Linked DNA regions of Homo sapiens: regions 2, 3 and 4 are each linked to region 1. Evidence: fine-mapped expression QTL. A gene starts in region 1. Each other region holds a variant in brackets. All regions are shown on one strand. Distances are between the middles of the regions.

Region 1 (8,000 bases):
AATCATGCTACTATAAAGACACATGCACATGTATGTTTACTGCAGCACTATTCACAATAGCAAAGACTTGTAACCAACCCAAATGTCCAACAATGATAGACTGGATTAAGAAAATGTGGCACATATACACCATGGAATACCTTGCAGCCATAAAAAAGGATGAGTTCATGTCCTTTGTAGGGACATGGATGAAGCTGCAAACCATCATTCTGAGCAAACTATCACAAGGACAGAAAACCAAACACCACATGCTCTCATTCATAGTGGGAATTGAACAATGAGAACACTTGGGCACAGGATGGGGAACATCACACACTGGGACCTGTCATGAGGTTGGGGGCTGGGGGAGGGATAGCATTAGGAGATATACCTAATGTAAATGAGGTTAACGGGTCAACGGGTGCAGCACACCAACATGGCACATGTATACATATGTAACAAACCTGCACGTTGTGCACATGTACCCTAGAACTTAAAGTATAACAAAAAAAGGGAAAAAATAAAAAATAAAAATAAATAAATATATAAAACTGTTGGGGGCATTAGTCACATGAACAGCTGTCAAAAAAAATAGTGGTTATCTCTGGGAGTGATGTTTCCAACCTTCTTCTTACTTATCTATATATTTTAATGTTGGCATACAGAGACTATCTAAAAAAAAAAAAAAAAAAAAAAAAGAAGCAGTTGCTTCAAAACTTACACCAGTGAGAAATTCCACAGAAAAGCTGAGAACATTCCTAACAAGGGTCCCTTTATGTATGCACTTAACATAACATATGGAAATTATTTAGTTTTCTGCCTCACTAAAGTGGCCTCCCACAAAATAGGAACTATAGTCTCACTCTCAATTTCTTTTTTTATTCCTAATGCCTATTACACTGTGTGGCATAATAGCAGGCTGAGGGCCAGGCACGGTGGCTCATGCCTGTAATTCCAGCACTTTGGAAGGCCGAGGCAGGTGGATGGCCTGAGGTTGGGAGTTCAAGACCAGCCTGACCAACATGGAGAAAGCTTGTCTCTACTAAAAGTACAAAATTAGCCAGGCATGGTGGCACATGCCTGTAATCCCAGCTACCTGGGAGACTGAGGCAGGAGAATCTCTTGAACCCAGGAGGCAGAGGTTGCGGTGAGCCGAGATAGTACCATTGCATTCCAGCCTGGGCAACAAGAGCGAAACTCCGTCTCAAAAAAAAAAAAATAGCAGGCTGAAGGAATAACTTTTCACAGAGAACCCAAAAGACTCTCTAAGAAACCAAAGGTTTAGATTCTGTACAGAAAACCCAGAGAATCACCTAGGAAATAGCCAAGACTAGCCACAGAATCTCTCACTAAATACAAATTTCATTTAACCAGCTCAGATAAAAAAAATCCTGGTATTTTCCTGCACCTCCCCCTTCTGTCTCCCAATCCATTAACAAATCCAACTGAAGAAATCCTCTTGTTTCTACATGTAAAACGTGTTCTCACAACCATTCTCACCATTTCACTGCCACCATGCTTGTCCAAGCCAGAAGTCATCTCTTGCCCATACATAGACCAGCAATAGTCCCCTGGTTGGTCTCCAGGCTTCCACTCTCCTGCACTGTAGCCTTCACACAACAGAGTGACCTTTAAAAAGGCAAATCTAATCATGCTACTCTAAGCTCAAAGCCTCCAATAACTTCCCATCACATGTAGAATAAAAGCCAAAGTGTTTCCTATGGCTCACAGCCTTTCATGATGTGCCCTAGACTTTGAACTCCTCTCCTACCCTCTGGTTCCCAGGTCTCCAGCCACACTGGCCTGCTGACTATTCCTGAAACTTGTCAAGCTCGTGCCTGCCTCAGGGCCTCTATCCTCCCCACTCCTGTGTTTTTCCTCTTTGCTGGAAATGCACTTCTCCTTAAAAGTGACCTTTTCAAACAGGTCTTTTTGTTTAGAAGTCACCTTATCAAAATACCTATCTTGAACCACTTTTTAAAAAATAGCAATGCTTTCCAACCAGCCTTCACTGTCTCTTCCTTTAACCTGCTCAATTTTTCTTCAGTGTGCCACCTGCCTTACATTATTTATTAATTTGGTATATATGTCTATCTCCTCCATTAGAATGTCCATTAGGGAAAGGACTTTGTTTTCTTTACCACTCGATTTCAAGTACTTAGAATAGTGCCTGCCACATTAGAGGTACAAAATAAATATGAGATAATTAACTAGGTGAATAGATAAATAAATGAATGATATCACCAAGATATGTTTCAAGTTCTTACACAAACACAATATTTGGCCCAGTGTCTACTATAAACGGTAGAATATTTCCTCAAGTCAACACCAAAAAGGGATGTTATAATAAAGCAGGTCGGACAACAGTCTCACATTACTGAATAACGATACTGATCTGATGTTGATGATTGCTTCTTTACTTTTTTTCTTTTTTTTTTTTTTTTGAGAGAGGGTGTCACTCTGTTGCCCAGGTTGGAGTACAGATCACGGCTCACTGCAGCCTCAACCTCCTGGGCTCAAACGATCCTCCCACCTCAGCCTCCCTCGTAGCTAGGACCACAGGTGTACGCCACCACGCCCAGTTAATTTTTTAATTTTTTGTAGAGACAGGGTCTCGCCAGTTGCCCAGACTGGTCTAAACTCCACCTACCTCTGCCTCCCAAGTGCTGGGATTATAGGCATGAGCCACTGTGCCCAGCCTGATGATTATTTTCAACAGGCCTTGTGTTTCCTAAGCCCCAAAAGCCTTCCCATTTCTCATTCCACTGCCATTTGAGACCCATGGCCACCTGATTGAAACCTCAAGGTTTTGCTAAGAATTTATGAAGAGAGTTAAGAAATCTCTTCAAATTGTTCCTATGAGGAAGTTATTTCATACTATGAGCAAATTCATTTTCATTAAGTATCTGTTGTAACCAAACGTTGTTTCTTAGCTTCTTAGCTCTGTAATATGGCACAATAATCTGACTTACTGAAGCCACTCATTATTTCCCATTGGCTTAATTCTTTCTTTCTTTTTTTTTTTTTTTAGAGATAGAATCTCTCTATGTTGGCCATGCTGGTCTTGAACTCTTGGCCTCAAGAAATTTTCCCACCTCGGCCTCATAGACTCTTTCTATGTTGGCCATGCTGGTCTTGAACTCCTGGACTCAAGGGATCCTCCTACCTTGGCCTCCCAAAGCTCTCACGTACCAGCACCCATTGGCTTAATTATTTCAGTAAAATCAGGCAAGGAGGAACCCTACAAAATAAACACAGGCATTCTCAAAGCAGATATAAGTGAAAACTCAGAGTATACTGTGGTCAGCTGTGTTCTCTATCACAAGTAGTTTGTCAACTTAAAATAAAGTACTAAAGTTTGGGAATGATCTACTCTAAAAATACATCGGACAATGGTCAATGTCATTTACAACATTCACCTCCTTTCTGATACACATCTCAGGAAAAAAAAAAAAAAAACTACTAAGTACCAGGTCAGAAATTTGGCACAACCCTAGATGACCACCTTGTCATGCAAATAAACTTAGAATGGTGCTCCTGAAAGTCAGCCACAGTGCTTCAAAAACACATGATTTTTTAAAACACCAAACTAAGCATACCACATAGTATAGAGACCAGGCTATGGAGTTGAGACCACCTGGGTTAGAATTCCATTTCTTTCCATTTAGTTGCTGTCACCTTCCTAATTTCTCTGTGTTCCATAATTCCATATTATCCATAAAATTCAGATATGAACACTTACTATACAGAGTTGTTATGAGGATTGGACAATGTATGCATCCCACAAGTAGATCAATTACAAGTACATTTTGCCCCAAGTAAAGACAACACGTGGGAACGCTGTGCAAGAGGGAACAGCAAAAGCAGTTGGAGGATGGAAGTCAGTTTGCAAACCTATGCGCACAGGCAGCCAAACACGAAAACGTTCCCCACAAGTAGTCTGTAAATTGGAGACTCCATTGGGATACACACACACACACACACACACGCCCTGAGAGGAAATAGCACCTTTCTTCATCACCAAGTTAGCCTTAAAAATTATTTACCCGTTGTTAGCCACACTAGCACTGACAAACCCAACTTTACTCTTGTAGGTCATTCTCCACAACGTCTGTGCTGCGTCAATCCCAAATCTGACTCCCTGACGCTTAACAGCGAAAATAAAAAACCGAGACATTACTCAATAGAGTTAACCCTTACTTAACAAAACGCTGTTGTCCCCTGTGGCGTGCAGACAGTAGAGACAGTAATTCCCGACCTTATGCTTGTCAGTGACGGCATGCCCTTTGTATACACGCTTCAGTAGAGAACGACTGCAGTAAGTAAACTGCTAGTAGCAACACTGTTCCCCTATCTAAACTTCCCCTTTCCAGAGTTACTGATGTCCCAACATGGGTCGGTCGCTCAGTCTCCGTCAAGCCCGTACCCCATAGCTTGGGCATTTCCCCCCGCAGATCACAAGATGCAAAGGGGAAGTTACTACCAAACCGACGAGAATGGCCCAGAGCTGGGGGCTGCCAGGCGGTTCCTGGGCCCCTCTCAGCACCAGAAGAAGGCGGGCGCAGGCTCGCCGCGGGTCGGCCGCACGCCATACCTGGATCAGGCCCTGCTGGAACAAGGCGCTGTGCACGCAGCCAGGGACCGCCCCGGGCAGCTCCAGCGAGCCGTTCCCATTGCAGATGCTCCAGTTGCCACGCAAGCTGTAACTGAGCTCCGCGGCGGTGGTGCCTGCACCGCACAGCGCGAGCAGCAGGAGCAGGTGGAGGCGCATCTTGAGATCCCGCGCCACCGAGATGTGGAGAGATCGAAAGGCAGCGCTGCAAGGGACCGGCGGTGAAGCCACTCACCCCCTCGGAAGTAGCCGAGGCTTTAGGTCCCCGCCCCGGCCCCGCCCCTAGGTCAGCTGAGCGCTCTCCGGGCGCAGCCGCGGGCGGGAGGGGAACGAGGAGGCTGCGCCTGCACCCGCTGAAAGCCGGGCGTCGCGGGTGCGGGAGCTGCAGCCCCCGAGAATAGCTACAGGCTGGGGGGCATTGCGGTCTGAGCCTTCCCTCGGCGCTTCTTCCCGCCGCCTCAGTACATACAACTGGAGGCAAGAATCTTGCACGGTAATTGGGACAGAAAGATCCCTGGGCGCGCAGTGGCACAAAGCCTCGGGAGATCAGAGACCGACTGTACGTGGAGACCATAGCTGGAGAGTCCCCTCACTCCTTCAGAGAACCCAAACTGGGAGACAACCCACCACTTCCCTTCCGCCAAATTTACACAGACCCTCGTCTACCTGGTAGCGTAACACTCACCCCGCTGCAGCTCAACTCGCGGGTCTCAGAGCCTACCCCGCCCTTCAAAGAGTAAACAAGTACTAGCAGTATCTCCATCAGAAGGTTGTTCTGAGGGCTAACCAAGAAAATGCGACTATAGCATGCAGCATGGAGCCTGGCCCAGAGAAGGCATTCACGTTAGCTATTGTTACTAGCGGCCTGCGTCCTTATGTTTCATAAAGCCCCACGGAGGTTTCTGAGGTTCTGGAACCTGCACTAGGCGCGCAGCTGAGTTTAAAATCCTCTGCACTCACTAGCTGTGGGACCTGGGCAAGCCGCAAAATCTCCATCTCCGTTTCTTGAAGTTTTCAAGGTGTTATAAGTATAAAATGAGTAAACATATGTGATCGTCCCTAACAATGCCAGAGTACCCAAGAAATACCACTGACTTATTTCGGGTCTTGTAGTCAAATGGTCTACCTGAGTCCCATTTTTGCAATAGGATGTAACAGTAATCCTAGAAGTTAAGACGGAATTTTACATTGCATAAAATAGACTGCCTTTCTCCTGTGTTGACGCTATCTGCCGTATATTTATGCTTCGGAAGAAGTCCTTGAAAAGAAATTTTCTCTCATCAAATCTGAGCTTTGTTTCGCCTTACAATGGCCTTGGAATTGCCTGATTCTGCAGACACCGGGCAATATCTTACTTTGCAAAGTCAGCATTATTTACAAGCCCTGAATATCTTGGCTTAAAGGACAGTATGGATTATCCAACCCAAGCCGCTGGCTTTACAGATGAGGGAACTGAGTTCAAAGAGATCGGGGCCAGGCGCGGTGGCTCACGTCTGTAATCCCAGCACTTCTGGGAGGCCGAGGCGGGTGGATCACTTGAGGTCAGGAGTTCGAGGCCAGCCTGGCCAACATGGTGAAACCCTGTCTCTATTAAAAATACAAAAATTAGCTGGGCGCGTGGTGGCACGTGCCTGTAGTCGCAGGTGCTCGGGAAACTGAGGCAGGAGAACCGCTTGAACCCAGGAAGCAGAGGTTGCAGTAAGCCGAGATGGCACTACTGCACTCCAGCCTGGGCTATAGAGAAAGACTCTAAAAAAAAAAAAAAAAAAAAGATCAGGTGACTTGCCTGTCACATAGTGGCAGACAGGATTAGAACCCTCCTCTTCAAGGTCCTACTGTCAGAGCCCAATGATGCTATAGGGGAAACGCTCTCACTGCTTCAAAGCCTTCCTCACTCACTCCAGAAGCATTTTTACCTTTGATAGAAACAAAGCTCTCAATTCAAATTATATGCCATAATTCACGGCATTAAATGGCTAGCCATGGTCTGTGCAACACTGATAACACAAGGTTTATGGCAACAAGAGCGGCAAAGGAATTTTTTCATAATTCCCAGAGATTTCATTAAGCCAAATCAGAGGAAAATTCATCCTTGATGATACATATGGATATATTCTGTTTATTAAGAAATATAATTTTTAGAAAAACAATAATAGAAGATTCTCATTCCTCCTTTCATTCCAGGATGCAAGCATAACATCATTTAGGTTACTTCACTTTGACAACAGAGAACATCAAAGAATAATCAAAGCCCTAATAAGTACTCTTCCTAAAATTGCAATTGGCACAGATGACATGATGTTTTCATTTTGTTATAGGATAATTTTTGTCCATGATTTTCTGGTAAATAAACCTTATTTAGAGATAACATAAAACTTCTCAACTTATGTAATTTAAAGTCATGATACCAAATGCAATGTTTAAAATAGTTATGGGTATCTTTAACTTACACTGTATAAACAGATTTCATTTTGATCATTTCATTTGATGCTTCCCAAAACTTGAATTATTTAGAACAAGTGATCGTTCCCTGGTTTAAAAAGATAAATAATGCCCACGGTGATTAAATGATGTGTAGGGTCAGTATCCTGTCACAACAGACCAATGGAAGTAGTTAGGCCCTTTGCTATATGACAACATTTCCTTCATATCTAAATATATAAAATTGGTAAACTCATTAGAACACCATGGTATATACCAAGGCCAATGATATTCCAATCCCATGATATATTACAGAAGTTATAATAAGGGAAAGAAAATGAAAGAGTAATCAGATGTGGAGTGGACATTTGCCTTTAGACTCATAGTGTCTGATTAAACCCCAGGACTGGGGATAATAGCCCATAAGTATCCTGCCCAAAGGTTTGACATACTTCCCCAGAGTTTGAAGCCCCAAATGTTAGAACAAAGAGAGAAGGTAGTGGAAACTATGTACACCACTAGAATTTGGTGTGTCAAGGATGCATATGCATGAGTTTCCTATAAACCAAGAGGACACCGTAGGAAGTAACCAGGCTTGAGCCAGTATAATGGGATTCTACCCAAGAGAGTCCAAGAAGTCAACTAGAGGACACATGGCCTATGTCAGCAAACTGTGTATATATATACATATACTGTATATATACATATATACATATACGTATATATATACATATACTGTATATATACATACATACATATACTGTATATATACATATATACATACATATACAAATATATATTTTAAATATATATAATTTATATAATAATATAAATATATAAAAATATATAATATAATTATATTATATAATATAATTATATAATTAGGAATATAATATATTATATTCCTAAATAATGCATGGGTCAAAACAATAATAGATTTCCAATTTCTGGCCTGGCATGTAAGGACCTTGGAAGTCATCACTCTATC
Region 2 (8,000 bases), 55 kb before region 1:
TATTTAGGATAGTTAGCTCTTCTTGTGGAATTTATCCCTTTACCATTATGTAATGGCCTTCTTTGTCTCTTTTGATCTTTGTTGGTTTAAAGTCTGTTTTATCAGAGACTAGGATTGCAACCCCTGCCTTTTTTTGTTTTCCATTTGCTTGGTAGATCTTCCTCCATCCTTTTATTTTGAGCCTATGTGTGTCTCTGCATGGGAGATGGGTTTCCTGAATACAGCACACTGATGGGTCTTGACTCTTTATCCAATTTGCCAGTCTGTGTCTTTTAATTGGAGCATTTAGTCCATTTACATTTAAAGTTAATATTGTTATGTGTGAATCTGATCCTGTCATTATGATGTTAGCTGGTTATTTTGCTCGTTAGTTGATGCAGTTTCTTCCTAGTCTCCATGGTCTTTACATTTTGGCATGATTTTGTAGCAGCTGGTACCGGTTGTTCCTTTCCATGTTGAGTGCTTCCTTCAGGAGCTCTTTTAGGGCAGGCCTGGTGGTGACAAAATCTCTCAGCATTTGCTTGTCTGTAAAGGATTTTATTTCTCCTACACTTATGAAGCTTAGTTTGGCTGGATATGAAATTCTGGGTTGAAAATTCTTTTCTTTAAGAATGTTGAATATTGGCCCCCACTCTCTTCTGGCTTGTAGAGTTTCTGCTGAGAGATCCGCTGTTAGTCTGATGGGCTTCCCTTTGTGGGTAACCTGACCTTTCTCTCTGGCTGCCCTTAACATTTTTTCCTTCATTTCAACTTTGGTGAATCTGACAATTATGTGTCTTGGAGTTGCTCTTCTCGAGGAGTATCTTTGTGGCGTTCTCTGTATTTCCTGAATCTGAATGTTGGCCTGCCTTGCTAGATTGGCAAAGTTCTCCTGGATAATATCCTGCAGAGTGTTTTCCAACTTGGTTCCATTCTCCCCGTCACTTTCAGGTACACCAGTCAGACGTAGATTTGGTCTTTTCACATAGTCCCATATTTCTTGGAGGCTTTGTTCGTTTCTTTTTATTCTTTTTTCTCTAAACTTCCCTTCTCGCTTCATTTCATTCATTTCATCTTCCATCACTGATACCCTTTCTTCCAGTTGATCGCATCGGCTCCTGAGGCTTCTGCATTCTTCACGTAGTTCTCGAGCCTTGGTTTTCAGCTCCATCAGCTCCTTTAAGCACTTCTCTGTATTGGTTATTCTAGTTATACATTCGTCTAAATTCTTTTCAAAGTTTTTAACTTCTTTGCCTTTGGTTTGAATTTCCTCCTGTAGCTCGTAGTTTGATCGCCTGAAGCCTTCTTCTCTCAACTTGTCAAAGTCATTCTCCGTCCAGCTTTGTTCCATTACTGGTGAGGAGCTGCGTTCCTTTGGAGGAGGAGAGGTGCTCTGCTTTTTAGAGTTTCCAGTTTTTCTGCTCTGTTTTTTCCCAATCTTTGCGGTTTTATCTACTTTTGGTCTTTGATGATGGTGATGTACAGATGGGTTTTTGGTGTGGATGTCCTTTCTGTTTGTTAGTTTTCCTTCTAACAGACAGGACCCTCAGCTGCAGGTCTGTTGGAGTTTGCTAGAGGTCCACTCCAGACCCTGTAGAAACCACTATTTTTAAGGACTAAGAATACAGAAAAGAAACATAGATATATACATATATATAAGTAAATGAATTCACAAGAATTTCACGTTAATTTTTAAATGTTTAATAGCCTTCTTTCTGTCATACACAAGTTAGGGAACTATGGTTGGTCCTTTGATCTTCAGGAGTAAACTCACTAATTTTAAGTCAAGATATAAATTGAACACTTGAAAAAGCACAAAGATGACAGTATCTCTTTCTAGCCTCAACAGGGGGAAGGCAGAAAGTGTCCCATAGACAAATTAGTTTAGGCTTTCATATCAAGTTAGCTGAAGTTACTAGACTAAATTAGTTTGTTTTAATAACTACTTTATCCACTTACTGCATATACATATATATAACAGATGCCCAATATAGAAATTTAGAAAAGACAGTTACACAGAAGAATAAAATGCAAACCATTTTTAACACTACTACAGAGATAGCTACTGTTTGCATTAGTTGTTGTTTGTTTACTTGTTTGTTTGTTTTTGAGACAGGGTCTTGCTTTGTCACCCAGGCCAGAATACAGTGGAATAATCATAGCTCGCTGCAGCCTTGACCTCCCAGGCTCAAGTAATCCTCCTGAAACTGCCTTTGCAAAGTTATAACTGAGGAAATTATGACAATGAAAGAAATCAGACCTAATCTACTCCATCTTGCTTGTAACATTTAAGCTGTTCTTATTCATTCCTGGCAGTAGGCTGAACTAACTTTGGGAAGGAATTCAGTTCATGGTTTGACTCTGAAACAAAATGGATAGCAGCCCTTTCCCGAAAAGACCCCTTCTTGCCTGGGGACGAGTCTGCCTTTGCAGGACTAACAAATTAGCTACAAGATTAGAAATTACAGTTTAGGGGTCATGCAACCTCTGGCTCCAAGAGTCTGAACCTCCCCAAATTGCTCCTGGGGATAACATCACTATTGTAAAACCTAGATCAGTGCTTGAGATATTCTGCAGACCCTGCACTGGATGGATCAGCTGACACCACCCAGACTGGTAATCTGGCTCAACCAGTTCTGCCATCCCACTCAGGAAAGAAGACAGCAAGAAAACCTTACTTCGTTCCCCCTATGATTCCATCTCCAACCTGATCAATCAGCACTCCCCACTTTGCAAGCCCCTACCCACCAGATTATCTTTAAAAACTCTGATCCCACCCAGCATGGTGGCTCACGCCTGTAATCCCAGCACTCTGGGAGGCTGAGGCGGGTGGATCACAAGGTCAGGAGATCAAGACCATCCCCACTAACACAGTGAAACCCCATCTCTACCAAAAATACAAAAAATAAGCCAGGCGTGGTGTCGAACACCTGTAGTACCAGCTACTCGGGAGGCTAAGGCAGGAGAATCACTTGAACCTGGGAGGTGGAGGTTGCAGTGAGCCAAGATCGCGCCACTGCACTCCAGCCTGGGTAACAGAGCAAAACTCTATCTCGAAAAAAAAAAACCAAAAAATTTGATCCCAAATGCTGAACGTCTGGGGAGACTGATTTGAGTAATAATAAAACTCTGGTTTCTCACACAGCCAGCTCTGCCTGAATTACTCTTTCTCCGTTGCAATTCCCCTGTCTTGATAAATCAGCTCTGTCTAGGCAGCAGGCAAGGTGAATTTATTGGGCGGTTATAATCCCACCTCAGCCTCCGAATACTTGGGACTACAGGCATATACCACCACACATGGCTAATTTTTTTTATTTTTTGTAGAGACAATGTC[T/A]GCTCAGGCTGGTTCAAACTTCTGGCCTCAAGTGATCCTTTGAACTTGGTCTCCCAAAGCGCTAAAGATTACAAGCATGAGCCACCACGCCCAGCCTTGCATTAGTTTTGACCCACCTCATTTCACACTTAAATTTTAAAAATGAATACATTTTATTTTAAATAAAAATTATATGTACCTTTTTTTATTATGAACTAAGCTTTTTTAAAAATTTTCAGTAACTCTCACAGTGCCTGCCTCATAGTATATACCAAATAAATACATAAAAGTATCCAGACCACATTAGCTTATTCTTTTATTATTTTTCAATGTTTAAACGTCTATTGATATCAGTGATAACTGCTGTCTTCCAGATAAAAATTGAAAAAAAAAATTCTGGAGAAACTCCTAAAGGTAGAACTCTTTTAATGCTCTCATGAGCTTACACTCTAATTTTATTACATCAAACAACCAAATTGATAACTATAAAATTAATTAGAAATATAGGAATTACTGCTTAACATGCACAAAGCACATCTTCTTAACAGGAAACATATATTTCTCTATGTTAAGTACAAAATATATTACTGTCATAATATTTCAAAAATGAGGGAGGAGCTTCAAGATGGCTGACTAGCGGCATCTGGTATTTGCCACCTCCACAAAGAAGAACCCCTTCAGATAGATCACCTATCAAAAAACACTGAAATTCAACAGAGAAGTGACAGAAAACACCTAAGGTAAGGAAGGAGAGAAAAGGAAGGAACCCTGCTTAGCAGGGACCAGCTGAAAGCCTGGAGAGGCTCCCCAATGCTGGGAGAAGGTAAGTGAGTGGCCTCCAGTGGTCTACATTCCCATTATGGACTCCTGCAATCCTAGCCATGAGAGAGCACCTCCACCCTCGCAGCCCCCAGGACTAGTATAGGGAGCTACAAGATATGCAATGGCATTGCTCCAGAGAGGGAGCTCCTAAGCGGTTAAAGCAAGGCACCATTTTGAGAGTCTAGCCCCGAATGGACTGCAGGCTGACTTTGGGCTTAATAGCCCCTACATCTCCACATTCCTGGAGACTTACTGACATCCCCAAGTGTAGCCAGGCACTGCTGCTGGCTGCTGCCACCAATGCTGAAGCAACTCCACCCCCTCAGGAGCAGGGCTGCTGCACATTTCAAAACACCCTGTGGAAGGGCTACCCTGCTTATCTCCACTACCTGGAGCGAAAGTGCATGCTCTCCAGTCACCTATAGCTACTGCCACTGAAAGCAACCCCATCCTCCCCAGGAGCAGGGCAGCAGCACAGTCACTACTGCCCCCACCCAAGCATTCCACCAGTGGTCTGGATATCATCCTATGCCTGCCTACCACAGCCAGCTCCCACATGCACCACTAGAGGGGTCTGAGGACAGGCCTGCCCTGGCTCTACACTCCCACTCAGTGCCTGAGCAAATGGTCTGGAAGCCTGGGGATGACCCTGCCCCATCCACCACTGTTGGTACCTCAGCACTCCTCCCAGGAGCCTGAGGACAGGCCCACTAAACCTGCAGCTACTACCACAGCTAACATCTGCCTGCATGTGCCACCTACGGGCCTGGGGACTAGTGTGCCCAGCCTGTTGCAGCCACTGTCAACACCAATGCAGACTTCTTGGAAACCAGAGGATTGTCCTGCCACTGCTACTGCCATTTCCCATGCCATACCTGCTGTCCAGGGGCCTGAAGACCCAGCCATCCAGACCAGTGGTCTACCACTGCCACTGCCAGCACCCAAGCAGGCCAGTCACCTGGAGGCCCAAGATTCATCATGCTTGGACTCACTAACACCAGTGCCAGCATATACTGCACTGAAGCCCAAGGACAGGCACACTCAGCCTGCTGCTGCCACCAGTGAAGTCCAAGGACTGGCCTTCTTGATGACCCCATCCCCAGCAAAACTTCACTACAGCCTCCACTAACAACTATACCCTAAGCCACTGAGGAAATCACAAACACCACTGATGCTGTTTACAGCTGAAGAAATCAAACAGAAACTATACTATTGCAAGCACTCAAAATCAAAGCAAAAGTGCCCTACCCAAACAATACCACAGATACATCTTCAGGAAAAATTCCTCCCCTATAAAAGAGAATTCAAAAAAATTAGAAGAAGTGGTTGTTATACCAGATGCGTGGATATAAACATGAGGACACAAGAAACATGCAAAAGCAAGGAAATATGACACTTTCAAAGGAACACAATAATTATCCAACAACAGATTCCAATAAAATGTATGAAATCCCATATAAAGAATTCAAAATAAGGAAATTAAAGACATTCATTGAGATGCAAGATAACTCAGAAAAAAAAAGAAATCAGAAAAACAATTCAAAGTATCAATAAGAAATTTACAAAACAGACAGATATAATAAAAAAGAACCAAACATAAATTCTGGAACTGAAGAATCTAGTTATTCAACAATAATTAGAGAAAGCAGAAGAAAGAATTTCAGAACTTGAGGACAGATTTTTGGAAGTAAACCAGTCAAACAAAACTTTTTTAAAAGAATAAAAAAGATTGACAAAAGACTACATGACATATGGAATACCATAAAGTGACTAAATATTCTAATTTTCAGTGTGCCAGAAAGCAAACAGAAAATTACAAAGAGAGAAAACCTATTTAACAAAATAATAGCTGAAAACTTCCCAAGTCTGGCAAGAGATTTAATATCTAGATAAAAAAATCTCAGAGATTCCCAAACAGATCCATTCAATAAGGCCTTCTCCATGGCACATTACAGTCAAACTGTCAAAAGTCAAAGACAAAGAGAGAATTCTAAAATCAGCAAGAGAAAAGCACCTAGTTACTTATAAGGAAACCCTCATCACACTAACAGCAGATCAGATTTTTCAGCAAAAACGTCACAGGCCAGGAAAAAATGGAATGATATATTCAAAGTGTTGAAAGAGAACAGCTCCCAGCCAAGGATGCCATACCCAGCAAATTTATCCTTCATAAATAAAGGACAAATCATCTTTCTAAGACAAGCAAAAGCTGAGGGAATTCATCACCACTAGACCAGACCTACAAGAAATGGTTAAGGGAGTTCTACATATGGAAGCAAAAGGACAATATCTACCATCATGAAGATACATAAAAGCATAAAACCACTGGTTGAGTAAACACAAATGAGGATCATAAAGGACCCAAATGTTAACACTACAGAAAAACACCAAACCACAGTGATAAACAATAATAGAAACAAAAAAAGGTATACAAAACAACCAGAAGTCAATTAATAAAATGACAGGAATAAGCCCTCATATATCAATAATAACCTTGAGGGTAAATGAATTAAACTTTCCACTTAAAAGATATAAATTGACTGACAGGATTTTTTAAAAACATGACCAAACTATATGCTGCCTACAAGTAGCTCAACTCACCCCTAAAGACATACATGGACTGAAAGTAAAGGAATGGAAAAATATATTCCATGCAAATGGAAATAAAAATGAGCAGGCATAGCTATATCAACATCAAATAAAACAAAGTTTAAGTCAAAAAACAGTAAAAACAGACAAAAAAGGTCACTATATCATGATAAAATGATCAAATCCACAAGAGAATATAATAATTCTACATATATCTGCACCCAACTTGGAGAACCCAGATTCATGAAGCAAATATTACCAAATCTAAAGACAGATAGATTCCAATACAATAATAGTGGGGGATTTCAACATCTTACTCTCAGCATTACACAGATCATCTAGACAAAAAATTAACAAAGAAACACTGTATTTAAGCTGTACTTTAGACCAAATGAAACTAATACACATTTAAAAAATATATTATAGCTACAAAATGCACATTCTTCTCATTAGCACATAGCATATTCTCAAGAATAGATAATATGTTAGGCAAAAAAATGACTCAACAAGTTTTTAAAAATTAAAATCATATCAAGTATCTTTTCAGACCACAACGGAATAAAACTAGAAATCAATAACAAGAGGAACTTTGAAACCTGCACAAGCACATGGAAATTAAACAACATGCTCTGAAATGACAATTGGGTCAAGAAAGAAATTAAGGAGGTAATAAAAAAAGTCTTGAAACAGATAAAAATTGAAGCACAACATATTAAAACCTATGGAATACAGCAAAAGCAGTGCTAAGAGGGAAGTTTATAGCAACAGATACTTACATCCAAAAAGTAGAAAGATTTCAAATAAACAACCTAACAATGCTCCTCAAGGAACTAGAAAAACAAGAACAAACTCAATCCAAAATTAGAAGAAGAAAAGTGATAATAATGATCAGAGCAGAACTCAATGAAATAGAGACAAAAAAAACAGCAAAGGATCAATGAAATGAAAAGTTTGTTTTTTGAAAACAAGATTGATAAACCCCTATGTAGACTAATCAAGGAGAAGACCCAAATAAACAAAATCAGAAAGTTGTACTTTAGACCAAATGAACCTAATACACGTTTACAAAATATACTAATATTTTGTATATTATTATATACAAAATATATATATGAGAAATGAGAAAGGATACATTACAACTGATACTACAGAAACACAACAGATCACCAGAGACTATTATGAACGACTATACGCTAACAAACTGAAAAACATAGAGAAAATAGGTAAATTCCTGGACACATACAACCTGCCAATACTGACTGACAAAAAAATAGAGGCCAGGCGCAGTGGCTCATGT
Region 3 (8,000 bases), 270 kb before region 1:
TCAACCATAAAAAGTAACAAAATAATGGCACTTGCAGCAACCTGGATGGAATTGGAGACCATTATTCTAAGTGAAATAACTCATGAATGGAAAACTAAACATCGTATGTTCTCACTTATAAGTGAGAGCTAAGCTATGAAGACACAAAGGCATAAAAATGATACAATGGACTTTGGGGACTCAGAGGGAAGGGTGGAAGAGGGGGTGAAGGATAAAAGAATACACGTTGGGTACAGTGTACACTGCTTGGGTGATGGGTGCACCAAAATCTCAGAAATCACCACTAAAGAACTTATCCGTGTAACCAAACCCCACCTGTTACCCAAATACCTATTAAAATATTTTTTAATTAGAAGAGGAGAGAACACTTTTCAATTCATTCTAAAATGCTAACATTATCCTAAGGCCAAAACAAGATAAAGACATTACAAGAAAATAAAACTACCGACAAGTATCCTTAATAAACATAGATGCAAAAGTGCTTTACAAAATTTTGGCAAATTGAATTCAACAATATATAAAAAGGATAATATGAATAACAGCTGGGAGATATCCTAGGAATGCAGCATTCATTTGACATTCAAAGATCAATGAATTTCAATATATTAACAAACTAAAAAAGAAAAATAATATGACCGTATCAATTCAGGCAGAAAACACATTTGACAAAAGCCAACACATTAATGATATTTAAAAAAAAAATCTCACCCAAGTTGAAATAGAAGGTAACTTCCTTATCCTGACATAGGACCTCTACAAAAACTTAGATCAAACATCATACTTAATAGGAAAAGATTTAATGCTTTTCCTTTAAAATTGGGAATAAAACAAAGATGTCTGTTTGCACCACATCTATTGAACATTGTACCAGTGATTCTAACTGGCGCAATCAGGCAAAAAAAAAGGAAATAAAGGGCATCTAGGTTAAAAAAGAAGTAAAACTATTTTATTCACAGATGACATGATCATCTAGGTAGAAGATCCAATCAAATTTACAAAAAAAAACCTACTAGAGTAATGAATTTATCAAAGTAGCAAGATGCAGGATCCATAAATAAGAATCAATTGTATTTCTATATATTAGCAATGAAAAACTGAAATTAAACATTAAAATTGTATTTTATTTTTCTGAGACAGAGTCTCACTCTGTCACCCAGGCTGGAGTGTAGTGGCGTAATCTTGGCTCATTGCAACCTCCGCCTCCCAGGTTCAAGTGATTCTCCTGCCTCAGCTTCCCAAGTAGCTGGGACTACAGCTGCACACCATCATGCCCAGCCAATGTTTGATTTTTTTTTTTTAGTAGAGATGGGGTTTCTCCACATTGGCCAGTCTGGTCTCAAACTCCTGACTTCAAGTAATCTGCCCACCTCAGCCTCCTAAAGTGCTGAGATTACAGGCGTGAGCCACTGTGCCCGGCCTTAACATTAAAATTTTAAAACACTATTTAAATAGCACTAAGAATATAAATACTTAAGGATAAATCTGACAAAAGATGTGAAAGTCCTAAATAGAGAAAAACATACAACACAACTATGAGAAATTAAAGAATGTCCAAGTAAATGGAGACACATACCCTGTTCATGAGACAAAAAACTCATTATTATGATAGCAGTTCTTCCCAAGTTGTTCTGGAGATTTAATGCAATCCAAATCAAAACCCTAACAAACTTATTGTAGAAATTGACAAGCTGGTTCTAAAATGAATTCAGAAATGCAAAGGACCTAGAATAGCCAAAACAACCTTGAAAAAGTGAACAAAGTTGGAGGACTAACACTTCCTGATTTCAAGACTTATTGTAAAGCTATAAAGTAATCAAAAAGGTGTGGTATTATCATATAGATAGAGAAAAGATCAATGGAACAAAATAGAGTCCAGACATACAGATACAACTGATTTTTAACAATTTGCAAAGGCAATTTAGTGAAGAAAGGATAGTTTTTTTTTTCAACAAATGCTGCAGAATCAGTTGGAAATCAATAATCTAAAAAGAAAAAACTTCAATCCATATCTTGTACCACTATATGCAAAACTTAACTCAAAATGTATCATAGACCTGAATTTAAGTCCTCAAACTACAAAAGTTCTAGAAGAAAATAGAGGAGAAAATCTTAGTGAGTTTGAGTCAGGCAAAGAGTATGTGGATACAACACTGAAACCACAATGCAGTAAAAAACTGACAAATTATACTTCATCAAATTTAAAATCTTCTCTGCAAAAGAGGATGAAAAGACAAGTCACAGGCTAAAAAATATGTATTTGCAAATCATATATCTGGTAAAATACTTTTATCCAGAATATAAAATGAACTCTCAAAATTCAATAATAAGAAAAAAAATACACCAAAAGTAAACAAAACATTTGAACATGCATTTCACCAAATGGCAAATAAGCACATAAACAGATGCCCATCATCATTAGTCATTAGGGTAAAGCAAAGTAAAGCACAATGAGATACCACTAAACATATCAATTGAGACGATTAAAATAAAAAAGACTGACCATACCAAGGATTGCAAATATATGAAGGAGCTAGAACTCTCATTTCCTGTAGTGGGAATATAAAATAATATACTCTTTGGGAGAACAGTCTGCAGTTTCTTAAAAAGTTACATGTATGCTAACTATACGCTCTAGCCATTTCACTTGTAGGTATTTCCCATGACAAAAGAAAGTATATGTCTATATAAACAGTTAAATAGTTACACACAAATGTTTTAGTGGTTTTATTAATATATCCCAAAACTGGAAACAACCTAAATGTCTATGAACAGGAAAATGGATAAATAAATTGTGACTATCTATACAATGGAATGCTACTCAACAATAAAAAGGAATTAACTACTGATACAACAAGGTGGATGAATTTTAAGATAATCATGCTCAATGAAAGAAGTCAGATAAAAAATAGTACCTACTGTATGATTCCATTTATATGAAACTCTAGAAAATGCAAACTAATCTATGACAGAAAGCAAATCAGTGGTTGCTTAGGAATGTGGAGGAGTGAGGAATGGAAATGAGGAACTGCAGAGGGCCATGAGAAAACTTTTCAGCTGATGCACATGGTCACTGTCTTTATTATGGTGATGGTCTCATGGGTATATATATATATCAAAAACAACTCTCTCTCTCTCTCTCTCTCCAATCCCCCAACCCCATCTCTTACAACAAGAAAGTATGTCCCTAGTATATCTGGAAGCCATCTTTTGACCAAGAGAAAAGCCAGCATGAGGAAAC[TGTTAACACA/T]GGGACAGAAGAAAAGAAAATGTCTCTGAAGGGAAGAGAGCCAGAATTGTGATTACATTAAACCTAAAGATTTTCAACGATGTGACCTGATGAAATTCCATAATGGTTAAGTCATTTTGAGTCATAATTTTACATCTTTTCACCTTAGGTGAAAAGCATCCTAACCAAGATAAGTATATGCTCAGCATTATATTGATAATTTATAATACGCCATTGGAAAAAAACTCTCTTCCTGGCATTTAATTATATTACTTATTTCAAAGAAAATGCAGTAAAAAACTGATCTGTATATCTACTGATATGTCTATCAGTAAAACAGATAAGTATATCTATGTATACCTACTATGCATAAGCCTTACAGGTGCTACATAGAGGTGATATCTGTTGTTTATACTCTTTGTCTTCCCTTCTTCCTTTTTTTGATAACAGTGCCCCAATTTACGCTTAGCTAACCATAATCTAGCATTACTAATTCATGTCTTCCAGATGAGATAGACCCTCCTTGTCACTAAAAGTAGACATGTGACTCACAGCATTGTAAGAAGATAGTAATGGAACACAGGTCCCCAAATTTACCCTCCCAATCTCTTCTCAATTACTTTCCCCAACAAGAAAAAATGCTACTGCAGGTAAGCAGGGGCATCTAAAGCAGGGTCACTTGAGGTCACAGGCTCCAGGGTCTCTAAAAGGAAAGAGATACTCTCACTCTTCTCTGTTTTAGGTAGTCTGGAGGGCCTTGTTATAGAAAGACTTAAAACAAAGGTCTCAATTTTATGGCTTCCAGTGAAAGTTAGCCTGAGGAAACCTATGAATGCCTTCAGGAAAGCATTACATGGGCTTATTTGTGTGTGTTCTTGGGAAGGTCAGACTAATCTGGGTAGTGACAGGTCATATGGAGGAACGCTGCACTCATGGAAGAGTTGCTTGTAGCCCCTGAGGTTAGGCAAGCATTCTCCCTTGCACCCAGGGAGCTCTGGGAGAAGAAAGACTTTTTTTAAAGCTTCAGCTGGGTGTGGACAGATTGCCAGTTGGTTTACTGCCAGCCCACAAAAGCAGAAACCTTTCCCCTGGCAGGTTTGCCACTGCATAAAAGACCCTAACTACTTGTCCTGTAATTATAGGTCAGTGTATACAGAGCCTGAGGTCTGAACAGGAAATGGAAAATAATAACTTGCCCTAGTAGTACTAGCAAGCCAGAGAGGAAAACTAAGATAAACACTTCAAACAGGTGTTTTGTTGAAATAGAACTGTTAGAAGAGCCAGGTGAAAACTTTTCTAAAAAGTAATAAATTCACTCAAGAAGATATAATTAAAGATTAGGAGTTAAATATATGATAGATGCTAGAATGATAAAATATACATATTTTAAAAATAGGTAATGACTCCATGTGTTTCTGACAGTATACCCTTCCTGGTTGAAATAACTAAAATGAAATAACTAATGGAAATAACTGAAATGCTACATAACATATTTTTAAAAATTAATACTGCTTAGCCGGCATGAAATTCAGGAATCTAAATATTTCCAAAACTGAAAAACTGGAGGGAATAGCTGAGAAATTGACTTAGTCTGTTTTGTGTTGCTATCACAGAAAACCACAGACTGGGTAATTTATAATGAAAAGAAATTTGTATCTCACAGTTCTGGAGGCTGGGAAGTCCAATATCAAGGTGCCAGCATCTTGTGAAAGCTTTCTTGCTACATCATCCCATAGTGAAAGGCAGAAGAGCAAAAGAGCAGACACTCAAGAGAGAAAGTAACCTACTCCTACAATAATGGCATTCATCCATTTATGGGGGTAGAGACCTCATGACCCAATCAGCTCTCAAAGGTCTCACCTCTCAACACTGTTGAATGGGGAGTTAAGTCCCAACACAGGAACTTTGGGGGACATGTTCAAACGATAACACTGCCTATCTAGTCCTTGTCACTGGACAGAAAAAGAAGAAATTCTCACCTGTGAATTCATAACCACTTACACTATATGTGATGATCAAAAGCACACAAGTAAAAAATTTTATTTAAGGTTTTTCCAAGTTAATAGTATACCAGATAACAGGCAAAAAGAAGCACAAATATTCCTTACTCAATTTTAACCTAAGCTTCAAATAATTTCCAGAGATTGTTTCAAGAAACGTAAGCAATTTATTATTTATAATTCAGTTGACATATTAAACAGCATATGAAATATAGCTGAAAAGAGAATTGATAAACTAGAAGGCAAATATAAAGAAATTATCCAGAATGAAATCCAAAGAGATAAGAGATATTAAAAGACACAGAGATTAGATTGAGAAGATCTAACATATACCTAATTTAAATTCCAGAAAACAAGTCTAGGGAAAATGAAAGAGAGGAAATGTTACAAAAGATAATGGACTAGGAATGTAACTGTTGAAACATCAAATCTTGAGACCCAGGGAGCCATATAACATGCTTCCAAAATCCAAGCTTATTATATTAATATACAAAAACATTAATATTAATATTATATATTAATGTTATTGTTAATATAATCATTATATTATTAAACATATAATTTATACATAAACAATATATTATATATAAATGTATATGATATATAATATACAATAGTTATAATATATAATAAATTATATATTGACTTCTATATAATATAGAATTATATAACTTATAAATTATATATAGCTTTATATATAAATCAATAATTATATATTGATGTGTACAATTATTATTTTATATTATTATTAATAATTATATAATTGGTATTATATAAATATTAATTTTATATTGCAATAGTTATAAAGTAAATATCATATAACATTATTAATATAATAAATATAGTATATTAATATTAATAACTTGTATTTATTAACAATATATTAATAAATGACATAATTTCACATTTCTTTCAGATTTCTGTAAAAGCTTATCAGGAGTTATATATATGCAAAACCATATTTATCTTATTAAAGAGGCATGTATAAGTGTCAGACCATCACTTATGAATAGATTTGACAGCCAGATATACAACCTTTCAGAAAACAGAAGCAAACCTCCTCCATAAAAACAAGTAATTGGCAGCTGTCTCAATGATGTCCAGTAACTAGCCTTATTTCACTCAGAACAGTTTTGTCGGCTTCATATAGCATGACCAATCACCCTGGTTTACTAGAGCCTGAGGGTTTCCTGCGCAAGGGACTCTCTGTGCTAAAAGCAAGATAGTCCTGGATCAACCGGGATGAGTTAAGTCTCTATTTCCATGCCTTCATAGAAATCATTAAAAGATATCTCTCTGTTATGGGCTGAATAATGTCACCCACCCTGAAATTCCTATGTTGAAGTCCTAACCCCCAGTACCTCAGAATGTAACTGGATTTTGAGATAGGGTTTTTAAAGAGGTATATAAGTTAAAATGAGGACAGTGGGATGGGCCCTAATCTAATATGACTGATGTCCTTATAAGACGAAATGATTTGGACGTGGACACAGAGGGACAACCACATGAGGACAGGGAGAAGATGGCCATCTGCAAGCCAAGGAGAGAAGCCCTCAAGTAAACCAATGCTGCCAACACATTGCTGTTGAACTTCCAGTCTCTAGAACGATAAAAAATATTTCTGTTGTTTAAGCCACCCAGTCTGAGATATTTTGTTTTGGCAGCCCTAACAAACACATTCTCTAAGGGTTTATTCTCATTTTTGGTTTAGTGTATTTCAGCTGATGATTATAGCCTAATCCTCCCCCTCTTCTTGGGGCCTCTCTTCTCTGTACTCTTCCTCCTCATATCTCACACAGGCAGATTTGTTCCTGCCTCCTCACCTACATTACGAGCTCCGCACAGTCTCCTTTCTTCTGGCTCCGGCTCCCTCATTAATCTTTCTGTTATTAACGCTATTAACTCGTTAAACTATCTCTCCACCTTTCCAAACTTCCATTAACTCTGGCACTCCATAAGTGTTAGTCAAATAAATGAAGAATCACACTAACTCCTCTTTCCTTCCCTCTCACTCCAAACTCTTGGTGAGATTCTTTTGCACTTATGCCCTCGTTTCCCCATTTCCCACTCACTTGTCAGTCTCCTCATTCTTGGTTTTCCTCATTATATTGAAACACATCTGAAAAAGTCATGTAAGACCACAGCCACTGCGTATCAGTGCTATTTGAGAGTTAATAAAGTTCCCTTTTCCTCCAAGACAGCGAGCAGAGTGAACAGAAGAAAGACTGGTTTCTGCCCTTGGCTGCACAGCCATGCCCCGAGGCCGGGCTTAGGATTTTATAATTCACAAAGTCAACTGTCTCTTCCCCTCTCCATCCTTTAGGAACTGTCTGCAGTATCTGACACTGTTGAGAGCTCTCATACCCTTTAAACTCTCTCTTCTCTGGCTTTCTGAGCTTTCCTCCCACTTTTGATGGCACTGCAGGAGTTTTTAAGCATCTCTCTCTCATACCAACCCCAGAAATAAAGTCATTCCTCGAATTCCTGTACTTAGCCCCTTGTCTCCTAACTCTTTGACCACTAATGTTTTAGAAACACTCTCCTGACAACTATCGCATCTTTGCAGTTGTTTCCATTTCCAACGCCATGTCTCTCTGAGCAGCAGCCTTGAGTTTTCAATTGCATATTTATTAGTCATTTCCATATGGACATCTCACTAAATCTGTCATACTAAACATGTCTAAAATATGTATGTTTACATGTTACATGTATGTTTGGTATGTGGGAATGCATTACATTCCCACAGATTTTTTCCCAGTTACAGTGTTACTATT
Region 4 (8,000 bases), 120 kb before region 1:
TTAGAGCTTATCTCTTTTACTGCATAGTTAAGTAAAGTCACATTATTAGCATTTTTTTTACATGTGTGAATTCCACAAAATAGCAGCAAAAAGAGACAGTGCAATTTAAATCGTGTTGGCTCCATTCCTCTTAAGTAGCCGAATAGCATATGCCCAGAGTGAGGATGCGCTGCTCCCCAGAGTGGGAGGGTTTGCAAACCTCTCTTTGTGTGAGCACGGAGCTGAGTGCAACCTGGTTTCTTAATCTGTGCATTTGTCATGCAACATCTCAGTCTTACATTATATGTTATGTGTGACATAAAGAATTTCAAAGGGCCATTTTCACTATATATAATTTAGCCTTACATATTTGTGTAATATGTTATCATTCAGGGTTCTGAGTTATACACAAGGAAACCTATATTGATAGAAGCAGAAAAGAAGCTTAATAAAGCGTATCAGGTTGCTCTTCAGGATCAGAGACTCAGGCTTGAATTTGGATGGCAAATTCCCAGATCGCACCGCCCAGCTGTTCCAGTGAAGGTCCTAAAGCAGCCACAGGAACAAGGTTCATGCGGCTCATGCCAGCCTGCCCAGGAAGCTGCCAGGGTAGCATCAGCTTCTGCTGCTCCAAGACCAAGGCCGAAAGAGATGCTGGTGTCATGCTTATGCTGGTTATCTTCGTTGGATTGGAAATCTCCTCTCTGTATGTCTGACTGCAGAGCCTGGGATTCAAGCTTGCACCCTGGCTTCAGGGAGACAGGGAGAACAAGTTTCTGGCATCTCCCTTGAGAAAAGAAGCCAAATACCTAGTCTATATTAGCCCCGAATTAAACATTAACTAACAGTATTATTACTATCATTTTATCTCTTTAAGAAGGACAAGTCTCACTGAAATCAAAATGAGATAGAACAAAGAAAGAGCCCTGCTTTTCTCCCACCCCAATTACCCACCTCAAGGTAATGAAGGCCTAACTCAGGAAAGAAAAAAATTTGGTTTTCAAAATCATAAGTTTAGAGACTGAAAATTCATCCAGTACATAGTGGTTTTTTTTTTCTTTTTTGGAAAAAAATATATGTAAGACTGTCATTTTCTTCTGTTCTCTATTAGTTGTTACAGATAACTTGGATTTTATTATGTGACTATAGAAAGAAGGTATGTTTTCAGTTGTTAGGCTCTTTCAAATAAAACACAAGAATTAGGTGTTTTTATATGATTATTTCTAAATTAAATGTAGAAAATCCCTTTCTATGAAGTAAAAGTGTAAAACAAATTTAAAATTTTCTAAAAACAGAGAATGTAACTTTCTAGAAAGATATTTCCTGAGTGTCCAGAAGATAAGATAATAAAATTAAAAACATATATGTGTACATATATTTCCAACTGCTATGTGTAGGGGAGAAGGAAGGAAAGGTTTTCAACCTACTAGACAAATTCCAAATTCTCCAGCTGCACAATTTTTATAACAACACATCCTGATCATCCCATTTTTATATCTTGGCAATTATAAAAAGATTTGGTGATTGAGCTACTTTGAAGCAATAAATCAAAGAGACTAGAGTGAATATTAATAGACTCTACTTAAAATTAGACTGCGTCAGCTGGGCTCCAATGCTTCCCAGCTACAGGACCTCGAGCTCATCACTTAACCTCCTAAACTGGCTTCCAAACTTACAAAATGCAGATGATAATGCCTGGAGCTGTGGTGAAAGTCAGAGACTATGAGGTGAAGCACCTAGAACACAGCCTGGAACCTAGTGGGCATGCAGGCAGTGGTGATGACTCGAGCTTCCTCTCCCATCACTGCACCTGCCCACTAAGGAGGGGTGATGGGACAAACGAGTAGTGGTCACCAGCAACTCTGACAAATCCTGGATTCGAAATAGAAATCATTTGGTGTTTGCTTTTAGTGGGAAGAGGCCAATCTTCCCCCAGGCCTCAGGTAAACTCAGCACCAAGGGGGACACATGCAAATCTCAGGATGCAAGGAGCTGGCCCAAGAGCAGGAGAACCCCACAAGGCCACAGTCCCCTGCCCTCCGCCATGACCTGTGCTTACAGTGATCTGCGCCTTGCAGAGCCCCACGGCCTCCTTCGGTGAGGACAAGAAGTGGTAGTTGGTCGGGCTCAGGAGTTCATGGTCAGCTGAAAGGTAAAAGGAAACCACACAGCTTTCCCGTGTGCAATTCCCACATCTCCTCAGCAATTCAGACACTGGCTCCTCATAAAGGCAGACAGCCTCTCCTCCTTTCATCACAAAACGTTCAGTCACACGAGAGCACACGGGCTCCAGGGAGCTCCATGTATGGACTCTCACCTGGGGAGAAATAAAACAGAATAAAAACAGGCATTCTTGGTTGCTATGTTTTTAAGGAACAATAGTAGTAATAATTGCTGAAAGTCAGGTTAGCAGAAATGGTTAAGAGACTATGAAACCTGAGTTTTAATCCCAGTCCTGCAAAATACTAGCTATGTGACTAAGTAACTTCTCAGTCTTCATTTCTTCATATGTAGAATGAAAATAACAGCAGTAATGTCACAGGCTGTTGTGAGAATTTAAAAAATAATCCACGGAAGGCACAGTACCTGGTGCGTTGTAATTTTTCTGTAAATGTGACCTATTTTCAGTGTTATTAGTGTCCTCCAAACTATAGCCACCTAAGACTTTGAGTTTCTAGCCTTTCTTTTTACTTAAATTTGTTTTTTAAAACAAATTTGCTTTCCACATGCGCATTCTGAATAGTTTTACTGATTTTCACTATAACATGCCATTTTTAACCATTTCTTTTTATAAAGTTTGGACTATTTCCAGCCTCTCACAATTATAAATAACCTTGCATTTAAGGGGCACATTATAGCATATGTGATTTGCTTTCATCTAGTTATTTTATTTCCTACTCATAGAAATCCTGTAAGAAGAGAGACTGGTATCATTTTACTGAGAAGAAATTGAATCAACAAGATGTGAAGGGTTTTGCTTATGGTCACATGATTAATGGCAGGGTTGTAGCCTGAATATATGTATTCTAACTCTAAATTAATTTCTCTTTTATTTTCCCAAAAGAATGTAACCAAACAACTAAAGAAATCATCTAAAAGTCTCCTTCGATCTTAGAAAACAATCCAAGTAACTTACACTGAGTGTCATCGAATAATC[C/T]GAGTGAAGATCTGACACACCATAGATATAGAACGTGTTTTCATTCTCAAAGCCTACTGGCAACAGTGGAGCAAAGAAATTCTGAGCAAAGTAATGAAGCATTTTCCACTTTCCTCCGTACTCTGAAAATAATCAAGAGTGTCAGGAGACGGCAAGGTCAAGTAGTCAGAGAGGCACTGTCCAATGGCCCAGCTGTTTGTGGCTCATCGGGGTTCTAAGGGAGTGAGCATGTGAGGGAGAGTCAACAGTGGAGGGCACCCATGTTTGTGAAGCGCTCTGAGCACTCTGGACATTATGTCATGTCACCCTCACAACATCTGGGCAGGCACTAACGAACCAGGGCAGGCATTAACGAACCATGCTGTTAGGCAATTTCATCATTGTGTGATCATAGAGTGTACTTAAACAAACCAAGATGGTATAGCCTACTACACACCTAGACTATATGGTATAGCCTGTTGCTCCAGGCTACTAACCTGTACAGCATATTGCTGTGCTGAATACTGTAGGTAATTCTAATCATAGAAATGGGACAGTGAAAATACAGTATTATAATCTCATGGGACCACCATCATATATGAACTGTGTTGTTGACTGAAATGTTATACGGTGCATGACTGTATATAATAACTTATAGATTCTAGGTAGCTATTGATTGCTTTAATATATAACCATTTCGGGTGATAAGAGATAACAAATACCTCCCCTACTGCACGCACTAGAAGCAGTGGATTTATTGAGCCAATCAACATGGGGCTGTGAGGCCCCCAGAGCAGAAGCAGATATAGAAAACTTGTCACAGCTTCTCCCGGATAACCTTTTTGTCTAATAAGTACAAGGAGCTGGTGATCCTCCTCAGGCAGGCAGGATCCTGCCAGGGTTTAGAAAACAGCCAAGCTCTGGTACTTGGGTTTTCCTACTGTAATATTATTATATATACATATATAATTTTTCTTCTACAGTTAGATATGGTTTGGCTGTGCCCCTACCCAAATCTCATCTTGAATTGTAGCTCCCACAATTCCCATGTGTTGTAGGAGGGACCTGGTAGGAGGTAACTGAACCATGGGGGCAGGTCTTTCCTATGCTGTTCTTGTGATAGTGAATAAGTCTCACGAGATCTGATCGTTTTATAAAGAAGGAGTTTCCTGCACAAGTCCTCTCTTACCCACTGCCATGTAAGAAGTCCCTTTGCTCTTCCTTCGTCTTCTGCCATGATTGTGAGGTCTTCCCAGCCATGTGGAACTGTGAGTCCATTAAACCTCTTTTTCTTTACAAATTACCAGTCTCAGGTATGTCTTCATCAGCAGCATGAGAACAGACTAATACAGGTTCCTAGCTCACAACTACCATAGCCCTTGTTACAGACTCTTGTTATAATGTTGAGAAGCTTTAGGACTCAAAAGCAGGCCTCAGAAAACAGAATCTATCTCTCTGATCTCCTTCCCTCCTTTCACCAGCCCAAGGCAGGTCTCTAATCCGATTGTGGGTCATAAGACACTCATTCAGAAGGTGTCCTGCCTCATACCCTGGAGGAGGAAATGCTTCACAGAGAGGCCAAGAAGCTGAATGGACAGGCCTTGCTGTGTTTCCCCACTCAGTCTAATGGTATTAGATCATACCCGCTTTGTCCAATCACATTTCTACATGGTTATCAATCATGGCTGTCCAATGAAGTCTCCCTATAACGCCCAAGAGGACAGAGTTCAAAGAACTTCCACATAGCTGACCATGTGAAGGCTGACAGAAAGAGGAACAAGTATTCATCTACATGCCTGGAGGGTGGCACACCCCAGCCTCACAGGGATAAAGTTCCTGCACTCAGGACCCTTCCAGACTTCACCCCATATATCTCTTCATACGGCTGTTTATTTGTGTCTTTTAAAACATCCTCTGTAATACAGCAGTTAGAATGTTTCCTTGAGTTCTGTGAGCCATTCCAGCAAATTAAACCCAAAGAAGGGGTCATGGGAACCCCAGCTTGAAGCTGGTCAGTCAGAAGTTCTAGAGGCCCAGACTTGCGACTGCTGTCTAAAGAGGGAAGGCAGCTTTGTGGAACTGAGTTCTCAACCTATGGAATCTGATGCAATCTGCAGGTAGATAGTGTCAGACTTAAATTGGAGGGCACTCGCATGGTGTCCACTGCAGAAGTGATTGCTTGCTTGGTGTGTGGGGGAAGTTTCCCATATATTTGGTCACAGAAGTCTTCTGTGTGGATTGTTGTTGTGGAGTGAGGGAATTAACAAAGCACTTTTAGGCCAGGTGCGGTGGCTCATGCCTGTAATCCCAACACTTTGGGAAGCTGAGGAGGGTAGACTGCTTCAGACCAGGTGTTCAAGACCAGCCTGGGCAACATGGCAAAACCCTGTCTCCAGAAAAAAAATACAAAAATGAGCCAGGCATGGTGGTATGCAGCTATAGACCCAGGTACTCAGGAAGTTGAGGTGGGAGGAAGGCTTGAGCCTGTGGGGTGGAGGCTACAGTGAGCCATGATTGCACCACTGCACTCCAGCCTGGGCAAAAGCAGAGTGAGACCATCTCAACAAAAAAACAAAACAAAACAAAAAACCACTTAGAGTTTGAGTGTCTTGTTTCCCACAGACCTACTCTTCCTGAGGAACTCAGGAATAATCTGCATGGGATCACTTAAAGGAATATTTACAAAAATTGGGCTCTCCCATTTCTTGAATCGAACTCAGTTTCAGTCCACAACCTCATCCACAGACAGAAAGCAGGATCAGTATCCAAGAGTCTCTGAACAGTTATCTCTTTGCCTACCTTTCCAGCATCCCAGAAGGATTTTCCCCCCAATTCTACCCCTGATTCTCATTCAATGCTCTCTTATCTGGTTGGTGCTGATAAAGAGTTTGGTCAGAGAAATTTGATTAGAAATCCAATTCTCTGTAAGAGTCATCCATCTGGCACTAATGAAAACATGTTTGGAATGAATTTCTTTTGATCTGCATTCACAGCCAGTTTAAGAGCCTCACCCCTGCACTCTAGCCTGGGTGTCAGAACAAGACTCTGTCTCAAAAAAAACAAAAAGAACCTCACCCAACCTTTCTACTTTGTGGCCTTGCCTCGTTTTTGACCCCAAACTATTCTTTACATTATTAACTGAACTTTGTTTCAAGTCATCTCTAGTGAAGGGCAAAGACTATTATTCCTTAATTTTTTTTAATGTACCAGAATAGATGGGATAATTCGAACTGCAGGTTCCATGCCAGTCATCTCACCTGTTGCTAGTTGAACTGTTTCAACTGGTCACCTTTCCCATTCGGGATTCTGCCTCTACTAGCTTTTCCCCAAGAGCTAAACAGGGCATAATAAAGATGGCCTTAAGAGACATCTTCATTATGTCCTTAAAGGACATCTTTATTTGTCCTTAAAGGTGAATCAGAGAAAGGGAAACTTTAACACATAAGCGGGCCAAACTTCTACCTGATTGAATTCTCCAACACAGAAGAAGGGATGCTTAAGTTCATGCTTCTTTAGCCCTGGAATGCCCTCTTAAATAAATTCAAAATTCTATGCGTAATAACAAGACACATGGCTGAGACTTTTGTATAGGAATCTATCCCATGCTTAGCCTGCTGTTGCAACTTTGCACAGCACAGAACCCATAATTAGGTTGACCCTAAGGCTCATGGAAAGGCTACTAAGGTGAGTTGGGTGGCTGTAGTTCCTAGGCAGGCTTTTTAAAGAATGACTCTTTTGGTCATAGTTCTGCCTGGGCTAATCTGACCCCTCCAGCACTGTGCTTTCTCAGTCCCTCTCCCCACAGTGTTGCTTTCTCTCACTCGCACAAAGAACGCTGAAATGCTTACCAAGAGAAGCCCAGGAAGGAGCTTGCCAGATGTCATTCAACTGCCAATAAAGTGCCCCCATCGTGTGCCCTTGCTGATCCACTATCTCGCTGCGACTACGGCGGTAGAATTCAGTTTCTGTTTTGACACACTGGGCCTGCATCACCTGATTCAGGAAAACATTCATACACAGGTGTTATTGTTTGATGTAGACTGCCTAGATCTGAGAAAAATACAGGGTTTAGTTTTGTTTTGGGTTTTTTCTTTTTGGAGCAATTTGGATAAAATTAGGGAATTTAATTAGTATTAGGAATACATTATACTAGATCTGTAACTAGCCCCTTAGCATGAGAGAAGCTGTTGTCTGTAACAGTGGGTTTGTCTGGTAGACTTGGTGTTTCATTATGGTGACAATGGAAATAGGATGGTGTAAAAGGTTCTCTGCTAATGATAGTGTAGGCCGTAAAGAAAAACAAAGACTACTATTCCAGAGCAAATGCTATATATAGTCCAAAACTAGATTATTTTCACTGAAAAATTTTGCTAATACCTTCATAGCTATTTTTAAGAAAAACTTTTACTAGAAAAAATTCTATAAGAAAAATAACATTGTTATTATGAGTCTGATATTATCCAATCCCTAATTATTTTTTCTAGTCAAACAATTGTTTTGATGTCATGATTTTTGGTAATGTAAGATTTCTCATGAATGCAATTCCTTCGTTGTAGCAGAACAGATGGCAAATTGCAGCAATGAGACAAATGAATTTAGTTCTTGTTTAAGAGACACTAAAGAACTTCACACAGGACCCTTGATTACCGACACCATCATGGAAAAATCAGTCTCTTTTATCGCTGCCGTTACCGACACATATGAATCACATGCTCTTAGCCTGGAGTTGTGCTGAGGAGGGGCTCATGAATGGACCACTGAGGAGAACCCAGAGATGGTCAGAGCAGCGAGGATTTCAGAGAACAAGAAGGCCTTAGAATAGGGCTGGGGTTTTCACAGAGGAATAAAAAGAATGGTGCATATGGCCACCAAAAGACTAAGTCGA

What was found. PIP is the estimated chance that this variant, and not a neighbour inherited with it, causes the effect.
Region 2: its variant is fine-mapped to the expression of MANBA in whole blood (INTERVAL, PIP above 0.99). The same link has a PIP of 0.9 or more in CD4 T cells.
Region 3: its variant is fine-mapped to the expression of MANBA in whole blood (INTERVAL, PIP 0.96).
Region 4: its variant is fine-mapped to the expression of MANBA in whole blood (TOPMed, PIP above 0.99).

The regions. Positions count from the first base shown.
Region 1 is chr4:102,756,145-102,764,144 of GRCh38, forward strand. MANBA (mannosidase beta) reads right to left here and starts at 4,824. Exons shown (of 17, transcript NM_005908.4): 1 at 4,574-4,824. The coding sequence starts at 4,750. RefSeq lists an enhancer at 4,419-4,768 and a silencer at 4,859-4,988.
Region 2 is chr4:102,701,061-102,709,060 of GRCh38, forward strand. All of the region lies in intron 5 of MANBA (mannosidase beta), which reads right to left. Among named protein-coding and RNA genes, the nearest start is that of MANBA, 56 kb to the right of the region's middle. The variant T/A (reference allele first, on the strand shown) is at 3,314.
Region 3 is chr4:102,489,717-102,497,716 of GRCh38, forward strand. All of the region lies in intron 1 of NFKB1-AS1 (NFKB1 antisense RNA 1), which reads right to left. Among named protein-coding and RNA genes, the nearest start is that of NFKB1, 7.6 kb to the right of the region's middle. The variant TGTTAACACA/T (reference allele first, on the strand shown) is at 3,239.
Region 4 is chr4:102,632,750-102,640,749 of GRCh38, forward strand. MANBA (mannosidase beta) reads right to left here. Exons shown (of 17, transcript NM_005908.4): 14 at 6,964-7,108; 15 at 3,116-3,258; 16 at 2,039-2,296. Among named protein-coding and RNA genes, the nearest start is that of MANBA, 120 kb to the right of the region's middle. RefSeq lists enhancers at 4,874-5,374, 5,375-5,875. The variant C/T (reference allele first, on the strand shown) is at 3,137.